Regions from separate parts of the Homo sapiens genome. Here regions 1 and 2 are each linked to region 3. The links come from fine-mapping of genetic effects on gene expression. A gene starts in region 3. Each other region holds a variant in brackets. All regions are shown on one strand. Distances are from middle to middle.

What was found. PIP is the estimated chance that this variant, and not a neighbour inherited with it, causes the effect. A credible set is the group of variants that fine-mapping cannot tell apart.
Region 1: its variant is the best candidate, but not a certain one, in a credible set for the expression of SIPA1 in blood mononuclear cells (TOPMed, PIP 0.88).
Region 2: its variant is the best candidate, but not a certain one, in a credible set for the expression of SIPA1 in monocytes after Pam3CSK4 (Quach 2016, PIP 0.86).

What each region holds. Positions count from the first base shown.
Region 1 is chr11:65,697,491-65,705,662 of GRCh38, reverse strand. No RefSeq gene overlaps it. Among named protein-coding and RNA genes, the nearest start is that of KAT5, 11 kb to the left of the region's middle. The variant G/A (reference allele first, on the strand shown) is at 4,213.
Region 2 is chr11:65,577,879-65,586,050 of GRCh38, reverse strand. It overlaps EHBP1L1 (EH domain binding protein 1 like 1), which reads right to left. Exons shown (of 19, transcript NM_001099409.3): 2 at 6,916-6,973; 3 at 6,615-6,710; 4 at 6,062-6,115; 5 at 5,792-5,970; 6 at 5,572-5,714; 7 at 4,925-4,993; 8 at 4,678-4,840; 9 at 2,286-4,512; 10 at 1,653-1,810; 11 at 1,517-1,565; 12 at 460-1,092. LOC124902692 (a long non-coding RNA gene) reads left to right here and starts at 4,970. Exons shown (of 2, transcript XR_007062731.1): 1 at 4,970-5,419; 2 at 5,533-6,095. The variant C/T (reference allele first, on the strand shown) is at 4,459.
Region 3 is chr11:65,634,565-65,642,736 of GRCh38, reverse strand. It overlaps SIPA1 (signal-induced proliferation-associated 1), which reads right to left and starts at 4,636. Exons shown (of 16, transcript NM_006747.4): 1 at 4,555-4,636; 2 at 1,137-1,906; 3 at 360-487; 4 at 98-274. The coding sequence starts at 1,815. PCNX3 (pecanex 3) reads right to left here. Exons shown (of 35, transcript NM_032223.4): 29 at 8,096-8,172; 30 at 7,617-7,764; 31 at 7,289-7,519; 32 at 6,934-7,208; 33 at 6,430-6,563; 34 at 6,048-6,346; 35 at 5,298-5,971. The coding sequence ends at 5,759. It overlaps MIR4690 (microRNA 4690), which reads right to left and starts at 6,427; the gene lies at 6,368-6,427. RefSeq lists enhancers at 4,004-4,073, 5,025-5,815 and a silencer at 4,424-4,793.

The DNA of each region.
Region 1 (8,172 bases), 63 kb before region 3:
ATAGGGTCTAAGGGATGGAGTCGCATGAATGAGATTGCTGGGCTGAAAATGTAAGAACGTTCTATTTTACTAGATATCAGCTAAGTTTTAAAAAATTAACATCTCTTATCCACAAAAAAGTATGAAAATTTCCATCTCCCCATATCCCCATCATTAATAGATGTTAAAGCTCATATATATATGTATATTATACATACAACTTATATATATAAGTATATATATAGTATTAGTCGATTTCCATGCTGCTATAAAGAACAGCCTGAGACTGGGTAATTTATAAAGGAAAGAGGTTTAATTGACTCACAGTTCAGGATGGCTGGGGAGGCCTCAGGAAACTTACAATCAAGGCAGAGGGTGAAGGGGAAGCAAGGCACCTTCTTCAAGAGGTAGCAGGAAGGAGAAGCGCCGAGCGAAGGGGAAAGAGCCTCTTATAAAACCATCAGCTCTCATGAGAAATCACTCACTATCATGAGGACAGCATGGGGGAAGCTGCCCCAATGATTCAATTACCTCCACCTGGTGATTACAATTCAAGATGAGATTTGGGTGGGAATACAAAGCCTAACCATATATTATATATAGGATATATAGATAGATATAGTATATATATATATCATACATATATAACCATATCATATATCTATATCTATATATCATATAGATATCATATATAGATATAGATATAGATGTATTTTTTTTTGTCCTGAGGCGCAGTCTCAAGAGGTCCTGAGAACATGTAGCCCAGCTCCTGGCTTGAGCAATGCTCCTGCTTTGGCCTCCCAAAGTGCTAATATTATAGGCATGAGCCACCATGCCTGGCCACAAAGCCTTTTTAATTCTTGCCAAGCTGATGGGTATAGTAGTATAACTTTACTTTGCATTCCCCAATCTTTTAGCCAGATTAAGCAGCACCTTTTCTTTTGTTTGTTGGCCACTGGAACTTTTCTTATGTGAATTGCTCCTCTGTATGTTTAGCCCACTTTTCTGTTGCGTTGTCCACTTCTTGATTTGCAAAAACCCCTTTTATGGGGTGATATTAAGCTGCTATTGCCTTCAGCTGTGTAAACATTTTTTCTGAGTTTCTCCTTTGTCCCTATAGTTTGTCTCCATCCTCTTTTGGCATGCATACATTTAAATAGTCACATTTCGGCCGGCGCAGTGGCTCACGCCTGTAATCCCACCACTTTGGGAGGCTGAGGCAGGCGGATCATGAGGTCAGGAAATCGAGACCATCCTGGCTAACATGGTGAAACCCTGTCTCTACTAAAAAATACAAAAAATTAGCTGGGCGTTGTGGCAGACACCTGTAGTCCCAGCTACTCGGAAGGCTGAGGCAGGAGAATGGCGTGAACCTGGGAGGCGGAGCTTGCAGTGAGCCGAGATTGGGCTACTGTACTCCAGCCTGGGCGACAGAGCAAGACTCTGTCTCAAAATAAATAAATAAATAAATAAATTGTCAAATTTCATAACTTCTGCGTTTCCAGTCTTGGTTGAGAAGGTCTTCTCATATTTTACATTTTTTTTACAAGATTCATATTATGGTTTTTTTTTTTATTTAATAAATCTCTTCTGGAATTTGTTTTGTGGGCTAGTGTAAGAGACAGGCCCAGGTGCATTTTCTTCCAGATAGGGAGTGAGCTGACTGCAGCGCCTCTCATTACATAATTCCACCCTTTCCTGCCGAATTAAAATGCCACATGTGGCTGGGCATGGTGGCTCACACCTATAATCCCAGTACTTTGGGAGGCTGAGGCAGGCGGATTACTTGAGGTCAGGAGTTCAGGACCAGCCTGGGCAACATGGTGAAACCCCATCTCTACTAAAAATACAAAAATAGCTGGGTGTGATGGCACATGCCTGTAGTCCCAGCTACTCAGGAGGCTGAGGCAGGAGAATCACTTGAACCGGGGAGGCAGAGGTTGCAGTGAGCTGAGATCGTGCCACTGCACTCCAGCTTGGGTGACAGAGTGAGACCCTGCCTCACAAAAAAAAAGGAAGCCAAGAAAGAAAGAGACACTGTGGGACCAGCTGGCATGCAGGGAGCATGGGAGGAACAGAGTGGCACTTGTCTGTGACATTAAAGAGCATGCAGCCTCCAGCCAGTAGTCATAACACAACAAAGCAGAGAACTTTTACTTTCTTAATTTTATTTCTTTATTTTCTCCATAACTAAACTTAATCTCTGATTTGAGATCCATCATGCCTAGGGCGGTAGGGAACATAATCTCAGGAACTTTTGAGATGTAGACTCCCATCCAAGGTGGAGCTGGAGGGCAAGGACAGGATGACCTGGAGATACATCAGTCATTTGACTTGATGGGTGAGCACCATATGAGAAACAAAGAATACTACTGAGAATTAAAAGAGACATTTTATCTTTATAAAGGAGTTATTTCATTAAGAAAACATCAAAGTCATAACAGTATGCATTCAATAATTCAAAACGCATGAAGCAAAAACTGACAGAACTGAAAGGAGAAATTCCTTTCAGACAGGCATGAGCCACCGCACCTGGCCTCTCTGGCTGATTTTAAGTGTGCAATTCACTGCCATTCAGCACATCTACAATGTCATGTAACTATCACCATTTTCCAGCTCTGGAATTTTTTCATTGTCCCCAACATAAATTCCGTATCCATTAAGCAAAACTTCCCATTCCCCTCCCCTCAGCCCCTGGTAATCTCTATTCTACTTTCGTTTTTATTAATTTGCCTATTCTAGGTACTTCGTATAAGTAAAATCACACAATATGTGTCCCTCTGTGTCTGGCTTATGTCACTTGGCATAATGTGACATAGGTTGATCGATGCTGTAGCATATGCCAAAGTTTCATTCCTTCAGATTGCCACAGAATATTCCCTTGTATGTATACACTGCATCGTGTTTCTCCGTTCATCTGTGGATAGACATTTGAATTGTTTCCACATTTTGGCTATTGTAAATAATGTTGCTATCAACATTGGTGTACAAATATCTGTTGAAGTTCTTGCCTTCAGGTTTTGTTTTGTTTTGTTTGTTTGTTTTGTTTTGTTTTTGAGATGGAGTCTCGCTCTATGGCCCAGGCTGGAGTGCAATGGCATGATCTTGGCTCACTGCAACCTCCGTCTCCCAGGTTCAAGTGATTCTCCTGCCTCAGCCTCCTGAGGAGCTGGGATTACAGGCGCGCACCACCACGCTGGGCTGATTTTTGTATTTTACTAGAGATGAGGTTTCACCATGTTGGTCAGGCTGGTCTTGAACTCCTGACCTCGTGATCCACCGCCTCGGCCTCCCAAAGTGCTGGAATTACAGGCATGAGCCACCAGGCCCGGCCCAGTTCTTTTGGATATATACCTAGAATTGGAATTGCTTGATCATAGGATAGTTCCGTGTTTAAAGTTTTGAAGAATTGCCAGGCTGTTTTCCACAGTGGCTGTACCTTCTTGCATGCTCACCAGCAAGGCACTAGGGCTCCAATTTCTTCACATTCTCACCACAGCTTATCTTTCGTTTTTTGGAATTAAGGGTTTGATTTTAACAGTTGTTCAGATTATATCACATTGCTCCATGGCAACAGTTAATGACATATTCTAGATATACATTTGATTAAAATATGTACTGCTTCCAAGAAGCCTTTCTCATTTTGAGAATTGAGATTCAGTTTTATAGATTCAAACAAGAATACCAATCAAAATTTCAGCAGACTGGATTGGTAGAAATTGACAAGCTGATTCTAAATGGTATACAGAAATTCAATGGCTCACACCTGTAATCCCAGCACTTTGGGAGGCTGAGACAGGAGGATAACTTGAGGCAGGAATTTGAGAATGGCCTGGGCAATGTAGCAAGACCCCATCTCTACAAAAATAAAATAAGATATTAGCCGTGTGTGGTGCCATACACCTGTAGTTCTAACTACTCAAGAGGCTGATGCAAGAGGATCACTTGAGCCCAGGAGACACAGACAAAAACCATATGATTATCTCAATTGAAACAATTATTAAATTGCATTTAATAAAATTCCATATCCTTTCATGATAAAACCTCTAAACAAACTAGGAATAGAAAAAACTTACTTCGGCCAGGCACGGTGGCTCACGCCTGTAATCCCAGCACTTTGGGAGGCTGAGGCGGGTGGATCACGAGGTCAGGAGATGGAGACCATCCTGGCTAACACAGTGAAACCCCGTCTCTACTAAAAATACAAAAAATTAGCCGGGCGAGGTAGCGGGC[G/A]CCTGTAGTCCCAGCTACTCGGGAGGCTGAGGCAGGAGTATGGCGTGAACCCCGGGGGACGGAGCCTGCAGTGAGCCGAGATCGCGCCACTGCACTCCAGCCTGGGCGACAGCGAGACTCCATCTCAAAAAAAAAAAAAAAGAACTTACTTCATAACAATTTATTGACATGACAAACCCATAGCTAACATCACACTGAATGGGGAAAATCTGAAAGTCTTTTCTCTAAGATCTGGAATAAGACAAGAATGCCCACTTTCATCACCCCTATTCAATACAGTGATGGAAATCCTAGCCAGCGAAATCAGGCAAGAAAAAGAAATAAGTGGCATCCAAATTGAAAAAGACAAAGTCAAACTATCCCTCCTTGCTGATGATATGATCATATATTTAGGAAAACCTAAAGACTCCACCAAAAAACTCCTAGAATTAATAATAAATTCAGTAAAGTTGCAGGATACAAAATCAACATACAAAAATCAATAGCATTTCTACATACCAATAATGAGCTAGCTCAGAAAGAAATGAAGAAGCCCATTTATCTTGCTGCAAAAAAAAAAAAAAAAAAAAAAAAAAAAAAAAAAAAAAAAAGTCTAGGAATAAATCTAACCAAGAAGGTGAACTATCTCTACAATGAAAACTACAAAACACTGATGAAAGAAATTGAAGAGGACACAAACGAATGGGAAGACATCCCATACACATGAAATCAGAGAATTAATAGTGTTAAAATCAAGAGAGGAGACCAGCAGGTCTTGTTTGGAAAGAATCAGCAGATGGTGACAAAAGCAATCCCTAGCTGCCCTCATTGTTCCTTAGCATAAGACACTCCCACCAGTGTAATGACAGTTTACAAATGCCATGGCAAAGACCCAGAAGTTACCACATCTTTCCACACCAATGACCCAGAAGTCACCACCCCTTTCCTAAAAGGTTCTAAATAACCCCTCCATCAATTTGCATTAACTCACCCTTCTATTTGCATATAATTAAAAATGAGTATAAGCGAATATAAATACCGTTGCCAAGAGCCCATAGGTTGCCTGCTGCAGGTGCACTGCCTGAGTTATCCCTGCTCCACAAAGAGCAGTACCATTCAATTAAAAAACTGCTCTCTAATACCACTGTCTTGCTCTTGAATTCCTTCCTGTGTGAAGCCAAGAACCCTCCCAGGCTAAGCCCCAATTTTGGGGCTCACCTGTTCTGCATCACCTGGTGACCATGAAGACCACAAAGACAACAGAGATGGCAGCGACTGGCAATTAGCAGACAGGCAGCAAGACACTAGAAAGGAGAAAATTGGCAATTGTTGGTCAGCAATTGGCGGGATGGTGAGACAGGACAGAAAGATAGCAATAGATAGCAATTAGAGAGAAGTGGTGAGAGCAACTGGCAAGACAGTGAGACAACAGAGAGATGGCAGGAGGTGGCAGTTGGAGAGAGGTGGCGAGAGATGTCAAGACGGTGATCAGCAAGAGACAGCAGGTGATCAGTGCTACAAGCAATCAAAGCTGCAGAGCTTCTAACACTGCAGAGGTGTAGCACTAGCCCAAAGGTTCATTTTTAAGAGCCACTGTCTTGGCCGAGCGCAGTGGCTCACTCCTGTAATCCCGGCACTTTGGGAGGCCAAGGCCAGTGGATCACCTGAGGTCAGGAGTTTGAGACCAGCCTGGCCAACATAGTGAAACCCCATCTCTACTAAAAATACAAAAATTATCCTGACATGATGGTGCACAACTATAATCCCAGCTACTCAGGAGGCTGAGGCAGGAGAATCACTTCAACCCACGAGGTGGAGGTTGCAGTGAGCCGAGATTGCACCGCTGCACTCTAGCCTGGGCAACAGAATGAGACTCTGTCTCAAAAAAAAAAAGAGCCACTGTCTTTCCTGGCAACCCGTGGAGCCAAGCAGATGGACGAGCAGCCATAGCAGCACTGCCTTCTGTGGGACCCAATATTCCAGCTGGCATGTTGCTAGTATACCTGCTGATCCCCCTTTGGCAGCCAAGCTCGCCCAAGCTGGGGAAATCTGGGGAGGAGACCTTCACTGGGCCCCATGTTAGAGACTGGCCAGCACCATTTTGGCTCTTGCGGACAGGTGACTGTCCCCTTTGCCTCCTCTCCTCCATATCAGGTGATCCAGGAAATAAGGCTGTTGGCTAAATAGTCAATTCAAAGTCCCTCAAAGCGTGCCTGACCAATTGCATCCTTGTTGCCCCTTCTCTTGGTCCCTTCTCCTCTCATGCCATTTAATTTTTCTGTTGGCCATTTTATTTCATTTTATTTTCCACTCTGAAATATATATTTCTTTTGTAGTGTTTGCTTTGAATCCCCACTAACTATATTTGGGCAATTGTTTAAAGCAGGACACTCGCTTGTGGGAGGTCTCTGTTGTATTGACCCTGCAAAAAGTTGTTCTATGCCCCTGACTTGGTCTTTGGGATTCACTGTTGGCCACCCCCCAGATGGTCCAGGGTTTTTGACATTTGGTGTGAGGACTCTCATTGGCCAGTGAGGTGGTGGGGGCTGGGACATGGGCTCTTCCTGGGGACACCCCAACTCCTCTGCTCCTTTCTACAACCTCTGCTGTTCCTCTCTTCCCCTTTCCTCATCCTTTCATAATCACCTTGGTGGGCAGTGGTAAGGTGACTGGCTCAATATCTGAGCATTTATTCTTCCAAATCTTTTTGGGTTTGGGGGAGTTTTTGTTTTGTTCTGTTTTTTAGACAGCATCTCACTCTGTCTCCCAGGCTGGAGTGCAGTGGTGTGATCATGGCTCACTGCAGCCTCAACCTTCAGGGCTCAGGTGATCCTCCCCGCTCAGCCTCCTAAGTATCTGGGACCAAAGGTACATGTCACCACACCTGGCTAATCTTTGTATTTTTTATAGAGACAGAGTTTGGCCATGCTGCCTAGGTGGGTCTGGAACTCCTGGCCTCGAGCCATCCACCCGCCTCGGCCTCCCAAAGTGCCGAGATTACAGGCATGAGCCACTGTGCCGGCCCATATCTATTGTTTATGACACTGAAACCGGCATCGTGAGTTCTTTTGTTCTACTGTGTCCTGAGTCAGGGACTGGAGTGGGAGGGTCACAGGACAACAGGAAATCTGTGTGTGTGTGTGTGTGTGTCTGTGTGTGTGTGTGTGTGTGTCTGTGTGTTTGTGCGTCTGTGTGTGTCTGTGTGTGTGTGTGTGTGAGCTGTGATGTAATCTCACACTGTGTTCTCCTGTTTGGGTGTCTGTTAGAATCGGGTTGAGGGGAGTGAGGGAGGGTGGAAGTCGGGCGGGGAACAGCGCTGATGCTTGATTTTGGACCCTGGCAGGGGTGGAGAGAGATTTGGGAGGTAAAAGAGGCCTGAGATAGGGGGAGAGTCTGAGAGTGGGGAGGAATATGTCTTGAGAATAGGTAAGCCATGGCCGGGCGCGGTGGTTCACGCCTGTAATCCCAGCACTTTGGGTGGCCGAGGCGGGCGGATCACGAGGTCAGGAGATCGAGACCATCCTGGCTAACACAGCGAAACTCCGTCTCTACTAAAAACACAAAAATAGCCGTGCGCGGCGGCGGGCGCCTGTAGTCTCAGCTACTCGAGAGGCTGAGGCAAGAGAATGGTGTGAACCCGGGAGGCGGAGCTTGCAGTGAGCCGAGATCGCGCCACTGCAGTCCGGCCTGGGCGAAAGAGCGAGACTCTGTCTCAAAAAAAAAAAAAAAAAAAAAAAAGAGAGAGGCAGAGAGAATAGATAAGCCAGATTTCAGGCTGGAGAAGGCAGAATGTGAGTTTGGTCAGAAATGCCCACGGGCGCTGGCTAAAGGAGGCAGCAGACAGGGAGGGAGCTCTGGAGTTTGGGAGGAGGTGGGGAGGCCTGTCTCGCTGTCTGCTTATTTAGTGTTTGGTGATGGGGAAGCAGGATTTTTTTTTTTTCCTTTTCACTGGAATTTGGCCAGATTAAGCTCTAGGACTGC
Region 2 (8,172 bases), 57 kb after region 3:
CTCATGGGGCAGGGTGGCTGCTGGTTAACGATGAGCCACCTGCAGGGAAAGAAATGCCCAAACCCACCTTCCAGCCTACCAAGCACTGGGCAGAGTGCCAGGAACGTGGATGCTCCGGGAACTTCTGCAGCCTGATTCCCCACACCAAGTGCCAAGCACTAAAAACCCTCAGCACTTATCCCAGGCTGGCCGCAAAGCTGGGGACCCTGCCTGGTGGGCCTTGGCTCAAATGCGTCCCCTAATGAGGAGCTCACTACCACACCAGAGGACTCTTCCACAGCACCAGGGTCCCTCTGATCAGATAGCCCCTCCTGGGTCCAGCCGAGCCCCGCCACTCTGAAACCGTCACCCTCGCGCCAGCTCTGTCCTTGGGGCCCCTTGGGGGCTCGCCCGTTCTCTGCCCATCTTCCCGGGACCCCGCGCTGCGGCGGGGGAAGAAAGAAGGACCTTGACACTCACTGCAGCCGCAGCTCCCATGGCTCCCGCGTCCGGATCGTCCATCGAGAACGAGCTGCTGTTCCGCAGCCGCGAGCGCCTCTTCTTGAGCAGGTCCGCGTCGCGCACGTGGGAGAAGGAGCCGTGCGCGCGGGGCGGGGGCACCGACCCGGGCTCCCCGTTGACCGAGGGCCGTCGCAGCCTCACGCCGCCGCCGCCCGGTGCCCCCGCCCCGTTCACCAGCCCCTCGGCCGGGACCTCCGCGGGTCGCGACTCTCGGGGGGCCTCGGCCCCGCCGTCCTTGGAGGCGCGGCCCGCGACCGCGTTCCTGGAGGCCACCCCCGGGGCCGCCCCGTCTGCGCGGTCTGCGGCCTCCTTGGGCTCCTGGGGCCCCTCGGCCCCGTGACCGCGCAGCCGCTGCGCCAGGCCTCCGGCGTCCAGGTCGTCGGGCGGGCTGGGCTGGGCGCTGCCCACGCGGTACGTGCCGGCGCCGCCGCCGCCCTCCAGTTGTACCAGCTGCAGCTCCTGCCCGGTGCAGAAGGCGCGGATCTGGCACAGGTACGTCATGACGATGAGCTTGTCGGGCACCGACAGTAGCACCATGTCCGCGGGCTCCAGCAGCCGCGACACGCCCAGAGCCGCGAAGCCATCGAAGGCCTAGGGGAAGGGTGCACTCGGGGTCAGCGGCGGCGGTGGCCCGCGCCACCCGGCAACGCTGCAGTGCCGCCCCACGGAGGGGGTCCCCGGGATTGGCACCCCGGGTTTTGCCTAGCAACACCGCCCCCTCCTAGCGAGGGAAATCCAGCAACAAGGCCCGCCCTCGCGTTGCTTAGCAACGGCACACCGTCCACCCCGTTACCAAAGGGTGGTTTTGGAAAAACCATCTAAGGGAGGAAAAACGCTTTAAAACAAACAAACGAAAATAAGGAAAACAAACAATTTAATGACCAAAGGGGTAAAAAGTGGCAGAACTTCCAGAAGCCACTGCTGGGCCCGGCAGTCCACTTTCTCCAAATCTGACACTGAGAGCCTGGCTCTCCAGACCCTCCTTCCCTCCAGGCAGTCCCCCACCCCATCTCACCTGCTTGTTGTTCTGCTTGATGTTGAGTGGGTCTAGCGAGGCATAGTCACTGCAGAGAGTGTGCTGGTCAGAGGCTGGGTCCACACTGCCCTCCCTGATGGCTCCCCCATTCGTTCCCACCCCTCTGGCAGCTCACATCTTGTCTGGGTAGAATCGGTGCAGGATGGCACAGAAGGCCAAGCCGTTGCGCCAGGATGTGGTGAAGTTGGTGATGCGGACGCCACGGTAGCCAGTGGTGACTTCCTGGCACCACTCCAGCAGGGACTGGCTGGAGCTGACCAGGGCAGGTGGTGCCTGAGGACACAGGGGTGGGCTTAGGGAATGTATAAATGGGATGTATGCCCTCTGCCTCTTGGGGAAGCTCATGCCTGGCACACAACAGCCCCATCTCTGAGCTTGCAGGGGTCACCAGAGACCACTGGCTAGAGCCTTGGGGCCAGGTAAAAGGGTTTCTAGATCCAGGGTTATCTGCCAAGGTCACCTAAAAGGTCAGTGGCCCCCAGACAAGATCAGAGGTCACCAGCAGCCACACCTCAAAGTCAGCCCAGAAAATCAGCTTAGAGGTGTCCAGCTCCATGCGGCCCAGGGAAGATGGGGTAAGAGAGCCAGGGCATCCTGAGAGAGGAGGGGATGAGGGGGCTCCTTCAAGCTGAGCCCCCCACCCCACCCGATCCCATTCCACCAGGTGGGTCCATGCAGAGCCGCCGTTCGCTCAGCCCCAGGTTAGTGGGAAGCAGCAGACTGGGCCCTCGGCGGCCCCCATCCCTACCTGGCTGCCCGGCAGCCTCCTGTCCTCTTCAGCCTTCTCTGGGGAAGAGGCCCTGGGCGCCCCAGCCCCTGCCCCACTGGCCACCTGTGCTTCAGGCAGGCTGGCCTCTGTGAGGCTTCCCTCAGCTTCTTTCCCCTTCTCATTTCCCAAGACCCCAGCCTCCGCTTCCTGGGCCTTAAAAGTACCAGATTTGTTCTCTGGAGACTCTAAAACCTTCATCTCTGCTTCCTGGGCCCCCCAAGCCCCAGATTTGCCCTCTGACATCCCCCAAACCCCAGCCTCTGCCTCCTGGACTCTCAGAACTTGAGTCTCTGACCCTTGTACTCCTGAAATCTCTGCTTTTGCTTCCTGGGATCCTAAAACTCTTGGCTGAGTGACTGGGGCCCTTAAAGCCTCATATTTGAGAGCACTCCCAACTCTAGTCTCTGCTTCCTGGACCCCCGAAGTCTGAGCCTCTTCCTTCTCAGCCTCTGGAACTATAATTTCTGTCTTACGGGTCATCAGTACTCGGGCCTCTGCCATTCCAGCCTCGGGCCCTGAGATCCCTGAACCCCCGACCTCTGTCTCCTGGGCCCCAGCTACCTCAGATTCTAGCCCTGGGACCCCTGAACTCCTAGATGCTATCTCTTGGGTCCCCAATATCTCAGTTTCTGCTGTCCCAGTCGCTATCTCTGGAACCTCTGAACCCCCAACCTCTTTCACCTGGATCCCTGTTGTATCAGCTTCTAACCCTGGGACCCCTGAATCCCTAGATGCTATCTCTTGGGTCCCCAATATCGCACCTTCTGCTGCCCCAGTCTCTATTCCCAGAACCCCCAAAAGTCCCACCTCTATCTCCTGGGCTACCAATATGTCAGACTCTGCTATCTCTGCTTCTATCTCTCTGACCCCTGAATCCCTAGCTGTTATCTCCTGGGTCCCTAATATTTTAGCTTCTGTCCCCTCAGCCTCTGACTCTGGTACCCTAGAAGCTTCCACCTCTGTCTCCTGGGTCCCCAGCATCTCAGACTGTATTGTATCTTCTATCTTCAGTGGCCCTAAATCCCCAGATATCTCCTGGGTCACCAGTACCTCAGTCTCTGCTATCGTAGTTCTTGTCTGCAAAACTCCTGAACCCCCAGCTTCTGTTTTCTGGGTCCCCAATACCTCAGTCTCTGTCCCTGGGGTCTCTATGACCCCCACCTCTGTTTCCTGGGTCTCCAGTCCCTCACACTGTGCTGTCCCAGCAACCTCTGACTCCAGGACCCTTGATCTTGCTGCTTCTTTCTCCAAGGCCCCCAATATCTCAATTTCTAGTGTCCTAGTCTCTGGGAACCCTGACCCCTCAACTTCTTTCTCCTGGGTTCCCAGCACCTCCAACCCTACCACCTCAGTCTCTGTTTCCAGGTCCCCTGAACCCCCAGCTTCTGCCTCCCAGCCTCCCAGACCCCTGGATATTGCCCCCTGGGCAGTTGATAACAGGGCCCCCTGCCAGCTGCTCACCTGGGGCCTGGTGCTTATTGCTCCAACAGAAGGGCCCTGCTCCAGGCCTGTCCCCTCAATACCAGGTGCTCCACCCCTCACTTCTGCACCCTCTCTCTCCTGGCCTGCAGCAGCCCTGGCCCCCTCGAGGTCACCAAGTTGCCCAGAGTGCCCTGCAGGCTCCGCTGGGGGCAGGCTCAGGCCTGAGGGAGCCTCATCCCTGGTCCTGACTCCCAGCCTCCCCTGAGAGCCCCTTGGAGGAGCCTCAGGGGTCCCCCTGCATCTTGCCTCAGGCATCACCCCTGTCGCCTCTGGTCCCTTAGTGTCCACATGTCTCACCTTTGACCTCTGCTCAGCATCCACTTGACAAACTGCTGAACTCTCTTCAGCCTCCCCAGCTCTGACTCCTGACCTCTTAGTGTTTGCCTCTCTGCCTCCTGACCTTGGCTCAGTGTCCACCCCACTGGCCTCTGGCCTGTCCTCAGTGTCCATCTCTTCAGCCTTGAGTCTCTGCCTTCCAAAAGGGTCTCCAGAACCTTTATCCTCAATGCTCGGGCCCAGCCTAGCTCCATGGGCTTCTGTCCCTTCCTGAGGGCATGCCTGGGCCTGGGTCTCCCTAGCAGAGCCCAATCCTGCTGGAGGAGCCCCTGAGGCTTTGGGGACCTCATCTTCCCCCTGGGGGACTGGGGGCCGGAGGGCATCAGAGCCTTTC[C/T]GGAGCCGAGGGGCTGGGGTGGGGGCCGTGTCCTGGGCTGGCTGCCTTGAAGACCTGAGAAGAGAGCAGGAGGGGGAGTTGGGGGGCTGCTTTGGCCCCAACTCTCAGCACCATCCGCCACCCTTCAGACTGTTGGGGCCCTGGAGGCAGGTTGGTGGGGGTGAGGACTGCAGCTCCTATCAGGGGGCAATGGGGGGTGAGGCTGGTTCCAAAGCTCACCTCATCTCTGGTGAGGTTTCCGGGGGCCTTGGGGCCTCAGGGCCTACCTGGCCCCCCGCTTCATTAGCTCGTTCTGACCCCTGGCCTCGGGAGGTTCTGGCTGGGGGTGCAGGAGCACTCACAGGGGCTGGGCTGGTATCCTCAGCATTAGAAGGGCTGGCAACTGAGAAGAAAGAGGGGGACACTGTGGCCTGGGCCCAGTGACCTGGGGTCCAGTCTCCACCCCCAACCCCAGCCTGGGTCTCACCTGCCTGCTGGGGTCGTCCTTGGCCTTCCTCCTCCTCCTCACAAAGCGTCTTCAGCTCTCGAGAGGGATCTGGGAATGGTAGGAGAGGGGAGAAGGGCAGAGTCAGCCCAGGGCAGGGCCCCACAGGCCTGACCCCCTCCCCCAACTACAGTGCAGGTCCTACCTGGGAAACGCCCTGGCCTCAGGGCACCGCCCCGGCCTGCGAGAAGAGACAGGCCCACAGATGTGGAGAGAAAGAGAGAGAGAACCTCAACAGTGGACAGAGAAAAAGCCTGGACAAGCAGCAGGGAGGAATGAGGAAGCCCCAGCTGGCCCAGGAGGGCTGGTGGTGAGGGATCAGGAGCCGGGCTTCTGACCCAGCTGTCCTGGGTCAGGTACGGGCCTGGCAAGCACCACAAAGGGATGAGGAGAGGACCCAGGAGCCCAGCGAGACATTGGGAACCCATCCTCCAGGACTCAGCTGAAGACCAAGGCTATCGTGGGACCAGCAGCCAGGTTGGGACAATTGAGGCTGCTGGGTTGGTTGGGACTGCCTGGGCAGTAATGAGTTCCCATCACAGGGCGGGCACAGCAAGTGGCTGGTGGCCCGGGTAACCCTCCCTCCCCAGGTCTTGGCAGTCTCGATCCACAGCAGGCTGTGAGCCCACCTGGCTGGGGGACTCGAGCCCGGGCCTCCGGGGCTCCTGGGCCATGAGCCTCATCTTCATCACTCTCAGCAAAGTCATCCAAGTTGCCCACATCACTAGGCTTCACACTCATGAGGCTTGCGAGACTCTGCATGTCATCGTCCCTGGGAGGCAGAGGTTAAAGGTGAGGGTGGAGTCAGAGGTCACAGGCCAGGATCAAGGAGGGCAGGTAGGCACTCACGTGGCACGGCCCTCCCGCAGCAGCACCCCGGAAAGAGTGAGGCTCAGCTCAGCCTGCACCACCTTCACTGACTTTGGCTTCAGCCGCAGCCTCACTGGGACTTGGACAGGCACGGGCCCTGCATGGCGGGCCAGGTCCACCTCGGCCGTGGCCAGCACCTTCCGCTGCCCCTTAGACTCCTGTGGGCCAGGGGAGAGACCAGGAGAAGGGGCATCAGTGCTGTCCCAGGGTCCCCAAGATTCCAGACCTGAGCCCACTCCAGACACTCACATTTTCAATAATAAATGTCCACTCTTTGGCCTCATACTGGTCCACGTGGGGGTCCTGGGAAGAAGGGTGCTGGTGAGTACAGGACTGTTGGGGCAGCAGCAAAGGGAGCAGAGCTTGTCTGGCTCAGGAGGTGCTTGGTAGTGGTGGCTTTTTTTTTTTTTTTGAGACGGAGTCTTCCTCTGTCGTCGAGGCTGGAGTGCAGGGGTGCGATCTCGGCTCACTGCAACCTCTGCCTCCCAGGTTCAAGCAATTCTCGTGCCTCAGCCTCCCAAGTAGCTGGGATTACAGGTGCACGCGGTGGTTGCTACCTCCTCCTGGGATGCACCCCAAGTTCTGGTCCCAGCTGCCTCTCATGCTGCATGTGTTGGGTAAATGCTGCCTCCTCCAAGGAGACCTCCTGGGCCAGTGATGCTGAGCAGGCCCCCCTAATTCTTGGCCTCACCCCCCGCATCCTCTTCTATCTGGATGAACAACCTACCAGGAGACCTGTGTTGCAATTGTTGCAACTGCCTGTGTTGCAATTGCCATCCATGCTGGAGGGCTAGAGACTCACCCTGTAGAGGGTCACAGAGATGTCCACATTCTCAGGTACCATCCACACCACGGTGCCCCGGTATGGGTTCTGGATGCCCGGCTGCCAGCTGTGGGCCTACAAGGGACAATCTGAGTCCTCCCCCCATCTTAACTCTTCCCTCCCACCTGCACCCCCTATCACCAACCTTGACACCATCTTCCCCTCCCCTCTGTGGATTCTGATCTGTGCTTGAACCTCACTCCACTCCCCCATCAGCCCCCATCAGCCTCCCACCGGCCCCCATCCCTAACCTGGATCCCCAGTTGCCATCCTTCCCCACCTTGGAGCAGATGCGTCGGTTCCGACGGGTCCATACCACCACCAGCTTATCTGGCTGCCTGGGGGAGGGGGAAGGGGAGGGAGAAAGGGAGCAGGCTGCTTGGTCAGGCTCACCTGCCTCCCCATCTCCTCTTCCTCCTCCCCCAGCTCCCTCAGGGTCTTCCTTCTGCCCACCTCCCCCTCCTCCAGAAGAGGGCCTGGGCAGCCCCTTATCTGGGGCCACAGGGTGCAGGGTGGAGCTGCTAAGGTAGGGTGGGGCCAGAGCAGAAGGGCAAAGGCCCAGACAGTGTGGGCAGGCAGGGACTATGAGGAAAGACAGCAAGTGAGAAAGGGACAGGCACATACAGAGACCAAGACACACAGAAACACAAGGACCTGGCAAGAGATGCCAGACACAGATGCACATGTGAGCATCGTGCACACACGCAGACTCCAACACAGGGAGAGACAAAGACGAGGGATAAAAGAAGTCCCTTCGCACAAAGATGTTTGTGGAGCGCCCACCATAAACCCAGCCCAGTTTTGGGGACAGAGGAGGGCAAAAGAGAGACAAGACCTTTCCGGTGAGGACAATGGAGGTGGGGGCAGACTACCAGTCAAGAAGGAAAATAAATTAACAAGCGAACTCCAGGGTGATGTGAGGGAACCCCTGGGGGTCTCCTTGAGGTTGGGTGTCTGGGCAGAGATGAGTGGCAGGGGGATGGGCTGTGTGAGGATCTGGAGAAAGAGGGAATGGCAAGTCCAAGGGTCTGCGGCTGGAGGGTGACATCAGAGAGAGGGGCAGAGAGTTGGGGGTGAGGCCGGAGAAGCAGCAGAGGGTCAGCCTGTCATTAACCAACACCGCCATCCCTCGCCCACCATGTCCAGCCCTTTGCTGGGCGCAGGGGTCCCAAGGAGGATCAGCTTTCGGCAAGATGATGACAGTGGAGCCTGGAGGGCAATCAGAAAAGACTTCCAGGGGGTGACATCTAAGCTGAACAGCATATGCCAGGTCAGACATGGAGGAGAGGCAGAGGCAAAGCCAGAGGACAGAGATGGCTGCGCAGGGCCCATTCCCAGGCACTGAGTGGACTCATGGCTGGGCCTGGGGGCAGAGGGCCCCTTGGGGTTAGATGTTCAACTGCTGCCCAGGAGGGGTGATGCTTGAGGGGACGATCCGGCCCAGGGCAGCACGCGAACTGGCCTTGCCTGTACCCAGCCCCATGCCTGCACCCTCTCGTGATGCTGGGGTTTGCCCAGCTCACTGTTCGTCTGAGGC
Region 3 (8,172 bases):
CAGGATCAGGGTCAAGGCTAGGGGTTTGGGAGCTGGGCAGGCTGGGTTCAGACTGGGGCCAGCTGTATGGCTGGGGGCTCCGCGGCCCGCCACTCACCACTTGCTCATCCAGTGTGAGCAGCGTCCGTGGTACCTTGGGTGAAGCTGAGCCCAGGCGCAGGCAGCTGGGGCTCAGCTGCGGCGCCACGTGCTCCAGAAGTTTCCTTGGGGACAGACCCCGTGGGGGCCCCGGCGGCAGCGCGTCCTCCGAGATGGTGCCACGGAGTGTCCGGAGCTGAGGAAGGGGTGTAAGGGCACTCAGGATGCATACAAGGTGTCGGGGAGGCAACCCACGTCCTGATCCCGCGATCCCGGCCCACCTGCGTGGTCCGCACGATGACGCGGTAGCTGTGCAGGGTGCCCCCTCCGCTGCCCTCCTTCTCCTCCCGCCGCAGGCTCACTGCCACCGGGCCCAGCGACTCGTCCATCCCGAAGAAGTTCTGATGTTCTGGGGGACCGCGCCGAAGAAAACGATTGGTCCCGCCCTCTGGCAGCCCCGCCCCCGCTCGACCACGCGCATCACTAAGCCCCGCCCTAGGCTTCATCTCACCACCAAATGTTGACCCTAGACTAAGTCCCGCCCCTCTGTAGCCCCGAGCTCAATATCTTGATCTCAACCCTGACCCAGAGGTGGACCCAGACCCAGACCTAGACCCACGCGGCCAGCTCCCAGGCCTAAATCCTGCCTTGGCTCCACCCACCACGCCCTCATTCTCCCTTCTATGTCCTGGAGCCCTCTCTCCGCAGTGCTGGTGCGAACAAGGTTCACGGATGCAGGGATTTGAGGCCTGAGTTTTCACCCCACAGAAAAGCCCATAGGGAATCTCTCCCCAGCCTGGCAGGTTGAACCAGATGGAGGATGAACCAATACGGAGGCAGAGGGACCAGCCCTGGCTGGGGGTGAGGAGCCAGGGATTAGCCTTAAGAAGGTGGTTGAAAGTAGGTCCAGGAGGACCCCAGCTCAGCTCTTGAGCCCTCCCAGGGCCAGGGACTTTACAGGAAATGGACAGTTCATGAGCCCTACTGTGTGCACTGCAGGTGACAGGGACCTCTTCTTCAGCCCCCCTCCTCCACTCCCTGGAACTGCCTTTCCTCACCTTTGCCATAGAAGTATTTGCGGTAGTAGCCAGCACCCAGGTCTGCGTGCTCCAGGCTGTAGGCCGAGGTTCGGTTCTGTGGCTCCTCCAGGATGGACACGGCCGCGTTGGGCAGTGCAGGGGGCACAGGTGGGGATGCTGGTCCACCCAGGCCTAGCTCACCCTCACCCCCGAGCTCACACACAAAGCCAGGTGCCCCATGCAGCAGGTCCGAGCTGGCAGCCTGGTCCTCGGCTGAAGCCAGGGTCCCAGAGCTGGCCTCTGAGTGGCTCCCCATCCCCTGAGACCTCGGAGCCCAATCAAAGAGCAGGCTTTGCACGTCATAGTGGGCAAACCATCGAGGCTCAAGCACTGGTGGGAAGGCAGGCTCTGGTTCCTCTGCTGGCAGCCCCAGCAGTGCCAGCGGGTCAGTGAAGAGCCGGGTGGAAGTGGCTGCAGGTCGGCTGGCCTCTTCGTGGCTGTGGGCACGGGCACGGGGGCTGGCTGGCGTGGGGGGCCTGGCCTCGCCTGCATCGCTGCCGCTGCGCAGGAGTGGGCCCCGGACTGGCCTCGGCTCGAAGGTGTGCGGTGTCAGCGGGGGCCTTGCTGGCTGGCGCAGCTTGCGGGCAAAGAGGTCATCTGTGGACGCAGGGGCCATGCCCCGCCGAGGGCTCCCCACACCGCCGGCCCACATGGGCATGCTCTGTGGGCCTGACTCTCCGGGGGCTGGGCCGCATTGGCGGGCACGGGTGTTTGGTGCCCAGCCTGAGGTTGTGGCAGCAGTTCCTGCCCTGAAGGAGGAGGGGGCTGCTCAGAGGGGCCTGGGCAGAAAACAGGAACCCAGGCCCCCAGCCTGGTCCTCCACCACCCGTGTTGGCTTCCGGCCCCCTCCGAGACCATCAAAGCTGCTTCCGCTTTCCAGGCCACTTCCTTGTCTGCCTAGGGCTAAAGTTTCCAGCCCCCTCCCCAGCTTAGCTGGGCAAGGCTAGAGGCTGGGCTGTTGGGTCTTGGTCCTGAGGGTCCTGGAGCCTGGGCAGCCCTGGGACTGCCAGGGTCCCCCAGTCGCCACCCACACACCTTAGCTTTGGCCTGGGCCCAGAGTAAGGGTCCCACCAGGACCTAGCCCAACCGGACAGATGACTTGTATTGGCTGGGACGGGAAACCCAGGGGCCACTGGTGTCTGGGTCCTGCCCACTTAACAAAGGGAGGACGTCCTGTCCCCAGAGACCTTCCTCCTTGCCCCTCCCACTTCCTTCAGGGTCCCTGGAGAGCTGATCACCCAGAGAGGTCTGATCTCAGTGCCCTGGACCTCAAGGCCTCAATACCACAAGGACACATGGGTTCCCAGGGAGGCAGCGGCAGGGCAGCAGGAATGGCAAGAGGACTTCCTTCAGCACAGGAAGTAGCCCCAACTGTGGGCCCAGCCCTCTGCCAGGCCCCCACATCCTGAGGAAGGTGCTGGGGTCACAGCAGCTGTCATGGGACCCCAGTCACCCTGCCCTGAAGGACAGGCCAACTCACCTTCTTGCAGGCTACTGTGCCCAGGCTTGGGGGCAAGAGGAGTCACAATGACAGGGACCCATAGGGACCTCTGCCTACCTGGTCTCACTGATGCAGACAGGGAGGTCTGAACCCCATGTGACAGATGGTCAGATGAGGTCCAGAGGAGATGCTCTTGCCTGAAGCAATTCCGTGTCAGAGCTAGGATGTGAGCCTGGGTCTGCCCATCTCCAGGCCCTAAGCAGGGCTGCACCTGCCCACTGCTGTCTGTGTGCGTAGGTTTTGGGGGGTGGGTGTTGGGCTGAGGTTCAAGGTCTCACAGGATGCAAGATTGAGACACCCAAAGCCCCAGGGACCTGCTAAGTGCGGAAACGTGACGCCAGAGGCAGGTGCAAATGGTGGTGTGAGAACTTGAGGGAAGCCACACCCAGGCAAGCCCTGGATGGAGTAGGCAGTGAGGACAGGGAGCTGGGGAACCTCCACTGGGGGTACAGGCATCTAATGGTGGGTCTTCATGCAGCATCCAGCAACATCATGCGGGGCTGGGCCGGAGGGGGGTGGAGGAGGGGCTCCACACACCCTTCGTCTGGGGCCTCCAGAACCAAGCAAGAGTCGGCTCCCCAGCCCAGGTGCTTCTACCTTGATTTCTCCTGAATAAACTCCCATGCTGACCTTGAGCCTCTGTTTTCTCATCTCTAAAATGGGGTTAACTGGCCGGGTGCGGTGGCTGTGGCCTGTAATCCCAGCACTTTGGGAGGCCAAGGCGGGGGGATCACCTGAGGTCAGGAGTTCAAGACCAGCCTAGCTAACATGGTGAAACCCTGTCTCTACTAAAAACATAAAAATTAGCCGGGTGTGGTGGTGCGCACCTGTAGTCCCAGCCACTCAGGAGGCTGAGGCAGGAGAATCGCTTAAACCTGGGAGGCAGAGGTTGCAGTGAGCCGAGATCGCGCCACTGAACTCCAGCCTGCGGGACAGAGTGAGACTGTCTCCAAAAAAACAAAGAAAAAAATTGGGTTTAATTATTTCTGTCCCCTCCCAAGGCTGCTGAGAGACTGAGAAGAATGAGGTGAGTGTCGCTAGCTATGTGTGTGTGTGACGGGTGTAGCCCCTGGCTCCATGAGCCAAGCTCTGGGCACATTCAGCGCTCGGGCCTGGGCTATAGTGTGTGAAGGAGTAGGAGGGCATGAGGGAGGGGGTCTGTGCAAGCCCCGCTCCTTGTGGGCTGAGCTCTGCACGCTTGGAAGTGAGATCTGTGCATGTGTGCACCCAGCCTGTGCGCTGCCTCTTGCTGTGGCCCAGTGCCAGGCTCTGGCGCTGCCTTGAGGGGTGTTCTCGGGCTCTGCCCCCCACCCTGAAGCTTCACACAGGGTCCATTGAGGCTAGGACATTCCTCCGGGCCTGTGTCACTAGGGGTGGGGGGAAAGGGCCGGCCCCGCCCCCACAGATCCGGAAGGCCTGGCTGCCCCAGGAGGAGGAGCTGGCCACTTCCCAGCACATCTGGAGGTCATGACCCCATTTCGGCTGCCAGGGGGCGCGACAGATGTTTCCTCCCAGGCCAGGCCAGGGACTGGGGTGGAGGCCGCCTAAGAAGAAGAGGAGCCTCAGAATAAGGGGGAGCCCCGCACACACTTGCAGTGTTGAGGGGGAGGGGGTCACAGTGCCGCCACCAGGAGTCAGGAGCCGCCGCTTCCACTCACCGGCTGGCTGGCCAGGCTAAGCCGTCACACAGAGAGAGTAGGAACGGCTGGTCAGAGACAGGGGGCTGGACATATTGACTCGGGACTGAGCTGGAGCCCGGAGGGAAGTTGGGAGGGTGCTGGCGGCGAACGTGGCGAGGACCCCACTCCCATACACATCACCCGGGCCCACGGCTAGGCCACCTCTCCCCTGTCGGGCCCGACAGTAGTGCCTCCCGTCCCCTGCTCCCGCCAGTACCTCTGGGGCTCCCGCCCAGCCGCCGCCGCCCGCGCTGGGGTCCCGCTGCCGCTCTCCCGCTACCGCTCCCGGCGCCGGCTCCGCCTGGGGGCGGGGCCATGCTGGGAGGCGGGGCCATGCCGGGAGGCGGGGCCGGCCGGGAGCTGTCTGCGGCGGGAAGCGCAGCAGCGGGGATTCCAGGCCTGGCGGAGGTCAGCACCGAGCAGTGCTCATTCTAAGGCCATTTCCTCTCCTGAGAAACTTGTGCCTGCCTTCCAGACCAACCGGGAGGGCTAGCGGAGGCCACCTAGCGTCCAGCTCCCGGCCAGCAGGTGCTCAAGAGTCTGCCACTATTTTATGGAGCACTTGCTAAGCACTGGGCCCTGGGCAACCATTCCACTAGCGCGCTCTCATTTATTCTAAAAACACCTTAGATAGGTGTCATCTCTTTACGCCCTGGAGCAGCTGAGGTGCAGAGAAAGGCTTTGGCCAAGAACAAGCCTGATAAATGTAGGAGCCACCAGACCTGGAAGTCTGACCATATGGTGGGAAATGGCAGACAATACCCTTCAGATAAAGGCTTGAAAAGGGAGCAGCCATGCGGTGAAGAGGACCCGGTTCTACCTGAACCCCACCTTGGTCTGCCCTTGATCTCTACTAGACTTCAGCCCCACATCCTTCACCCCTCTGCGTGCTTGTCCATCCCAACTTAGCCGCCTGTACTATCATGTACCCATTCCCAGGTAGAAAAAGAAACTGCCAACCAAAATCAAAAATAGTGTTATTAATTCTGATGTCTCCGAAGCACAAAAAAAAAAAAAAAAAAGAAAAGAAAAAAAAGGAAAGAAAGAAACCACCCTTCCCACAATTCAGGCCCCAGGTCCAGGCCAAGGGGGCCACACCTGCAGGCAGTGCAGGCCCAGGGGCTGAGGTGGTCCTGGCCACAGGCTCCAAGTGGGACCAGCCCATGGTTTGGCTCTTAGGGCCTGGCTGGGAGGCTGACTGCCTCCATCTGGGGAGCCCAGGCCCTGGACTGGGGATGAGAGAGATCAGGGGTCAAGGTCAGAGGTCTGGGTCACTCAGTTTTGGTACTCTGGCCAAGGCAGCCAAAGGTCAGGGTTCAGACATGTAGGCCAAAGCCACTCAGTTCTGTGGTCCAGCAGAGAGGCAGCAGAGCAGGTCCGTTACTGAATCCTAGGAGGTGGTCCAGTGGGCGCCAGGTAGCTCAGTACTGGTGTTCCAGCAGGGGCTGGGCTGCCGGGCTCTCACGCTCCTCAATAGGGGCAGGCCAGTCGCCCAGGGCACCCATAGGTGTGCCACTCTCAGGGGCACTGCTGTCCAAGCAAGGAATGTCCTGGGAAGCTCTGGGGGGTGAGGCCTCAGTGCTGACATCGGGGCTGAGGCTGAGGCTGAGGCTGAGGCTGAGGTCTAGAGGCGCCTGGGGGAGGGGGGAGAGGTTGGCGGGTGAGCAGGCCTTAGCCTTCTGGGACCCAACCCTCCCACAGGTGCCTTACCTGAGATTTGGGGGTACCTCCTTTGGGGCTCCCTGAGGCTGGCTCCCCGTCAGATCCTCCCAGCCCCTTCCGGCCCCCCAGGCTCCACTTTCCACTGGGGCCCTCAGAACTGAGGAGACCCGGGCCAGGGGGCCGTGAGGTCCGGGGACCCTCTGTGGGGATAGGCGATGCAGGGGGTGGTCCAGGGAGCCGAGGGGGAGGCCACTGCAGCAGAGGTGGGGGCCGCCCATCACCAGAGCCACTCAGGGAGGACCGCGGCCCCCAGCCAGGGCCTGGTGGGAGGGGTTGGTCACCATTGCCTGTAGGAGACAGATAAGACAGCAGAGGCCTCAGCTGGGCTGCACTCCTCACCCACGGGTTCAGCCCAGCCTCGCCTGCTCACCTGCCGTGTTCTCAGGTGTGGGGTGTGCCACGGGGGGGTTATTGCTGAGGGAGGTCAGGCCACCGCCCCCACTACAGTCTGAATCATCCACGTTCCCGCCACTATTGCAGCCGGCGCCACAGCCCTTGTGAAGCCTGGGGGTGGAGAGGTAGAAAAGGGATCAGGAGGGACACGGCTGAGGCCAGAGGCCTCACAAGCATGAGTCCTCAGCCCCAGGACAAGTCATCTAACACCTCTGAGCCCCAGGATCCTCCCCTCTAAGAAGCTGCCACCTACTTTGCAGAGTCTTTTGAGGGTGCGTTGTCAACAGTGCTTGATGACTAAAGGCCACTGTCAGCTCTGGGGGTAAGGTGACATCTAGGAGGGGCAGGTCAGCTCTGGGAGGGGGTCATCTCTCGGGATTCAAGCCCTGGCTCCAGCACGTCCTCCCTCTGAGACCCAGGAGGGACGTACTGCACCTCAGCTTCCTCCCGCGCCACACGTCACCCCTTCCCGAGGCCTCACCTCTCCCAGGTGCGCAGGAGCCAGTGGGCAATGGCACCCAGGCTGATGGGGCCACCCCACAGTGCCCGTAGCTGGGGGTGGCTGCCAGCCAGCGAGGTGGTGAGAGGCGACACGTAGATGGGGTAGCCCAGCGGCTGGTCACAGGAGGAGTTGATCATGTTGCGAAGCGCCTGCTTGGCGTTCTGGATGCTGCCACGCTCGGGGTTGCGGTTGCGCAGGAACACCAGCTCCTGCTGCTGCCCGGCCCACAGGCCGCGCACGCACTCCCGGTTCACCTGAGAGCCACACGCCAGGGTCAGGGGGCCGGCCCAAGGGGGTTTGGGGCAGGGCTTAGGGCAGGTGGGGCCGGCCCAACCTTGATGACTCGGAAGCTGAGGTGGCGCCGGTTGAGCATGATGATCTTGTACTCGTCGGAGGCATCATCCAGGACATGGCGCAGCGCCAGCAGGGAGGGCGTGTTGCTGAGGATGGCGCTGCGCCATGCTGGGTCACCCTCATGTGAGATGACCAGCCGCTCCTCGTTGGCCGCAATGGCATCGTATAGGGCTGCTGGCTCCTCATATTCATCTGGGGACGTGAAGTGGTCCTGGTAGAGAAGACGGGAACAGGGGTCAGTGGCCCCTGCCCTGGAGAGAGGCTTCATCCCCCACCTGCCCATGCTGCTGGGCACACCCCTCCCCAACCTGGTGAAGCTTGAGGGCCATGCGAACCCCAGGCGCCACAACGCGGTGAAGCAGGTCCATGTCGGCAAAGACCCACTCGTCACGTGGGGAGGTGATGCGAAAATCCCCCTTGAACAGGGCGTGCAGGCCGTAGAGGAAGGGCTCCAGGCTAAGTGGGAGGAAAAACAGGGAGGGGAGAGAGGGGTGTCGAGGACCCAGGGGTAAGGCTTCAGAGTGATCCAAGCAGAGGCCTTTCCTCACGCTGAGCCTCAGTTTCCCCATCTTGACAAAGAGGCCAATCTCTGCCCATGTCTCTCACAGAGCACTGAGGAGCAGGCAAGGTCATGACCAGGAAGTGCCCTGCCCGTGGGAGAAGAGGTACCCCAACAGGAAGGGCCACTGCAGTTTCTGTGGCCACTGTGGCCAGAGACCACAGTGCTCTTCGTGGAAGAGGTGGGGTGGGGACGGCAGTAGGCCCCGCGGGACACCCGAGCACTCACCTTGCAGACATGCTGTGAGAGGCTGTCCCCAGGGCCCGGCGGCCCAGCACACACAGGCCAAAACACAGCGTGACCAG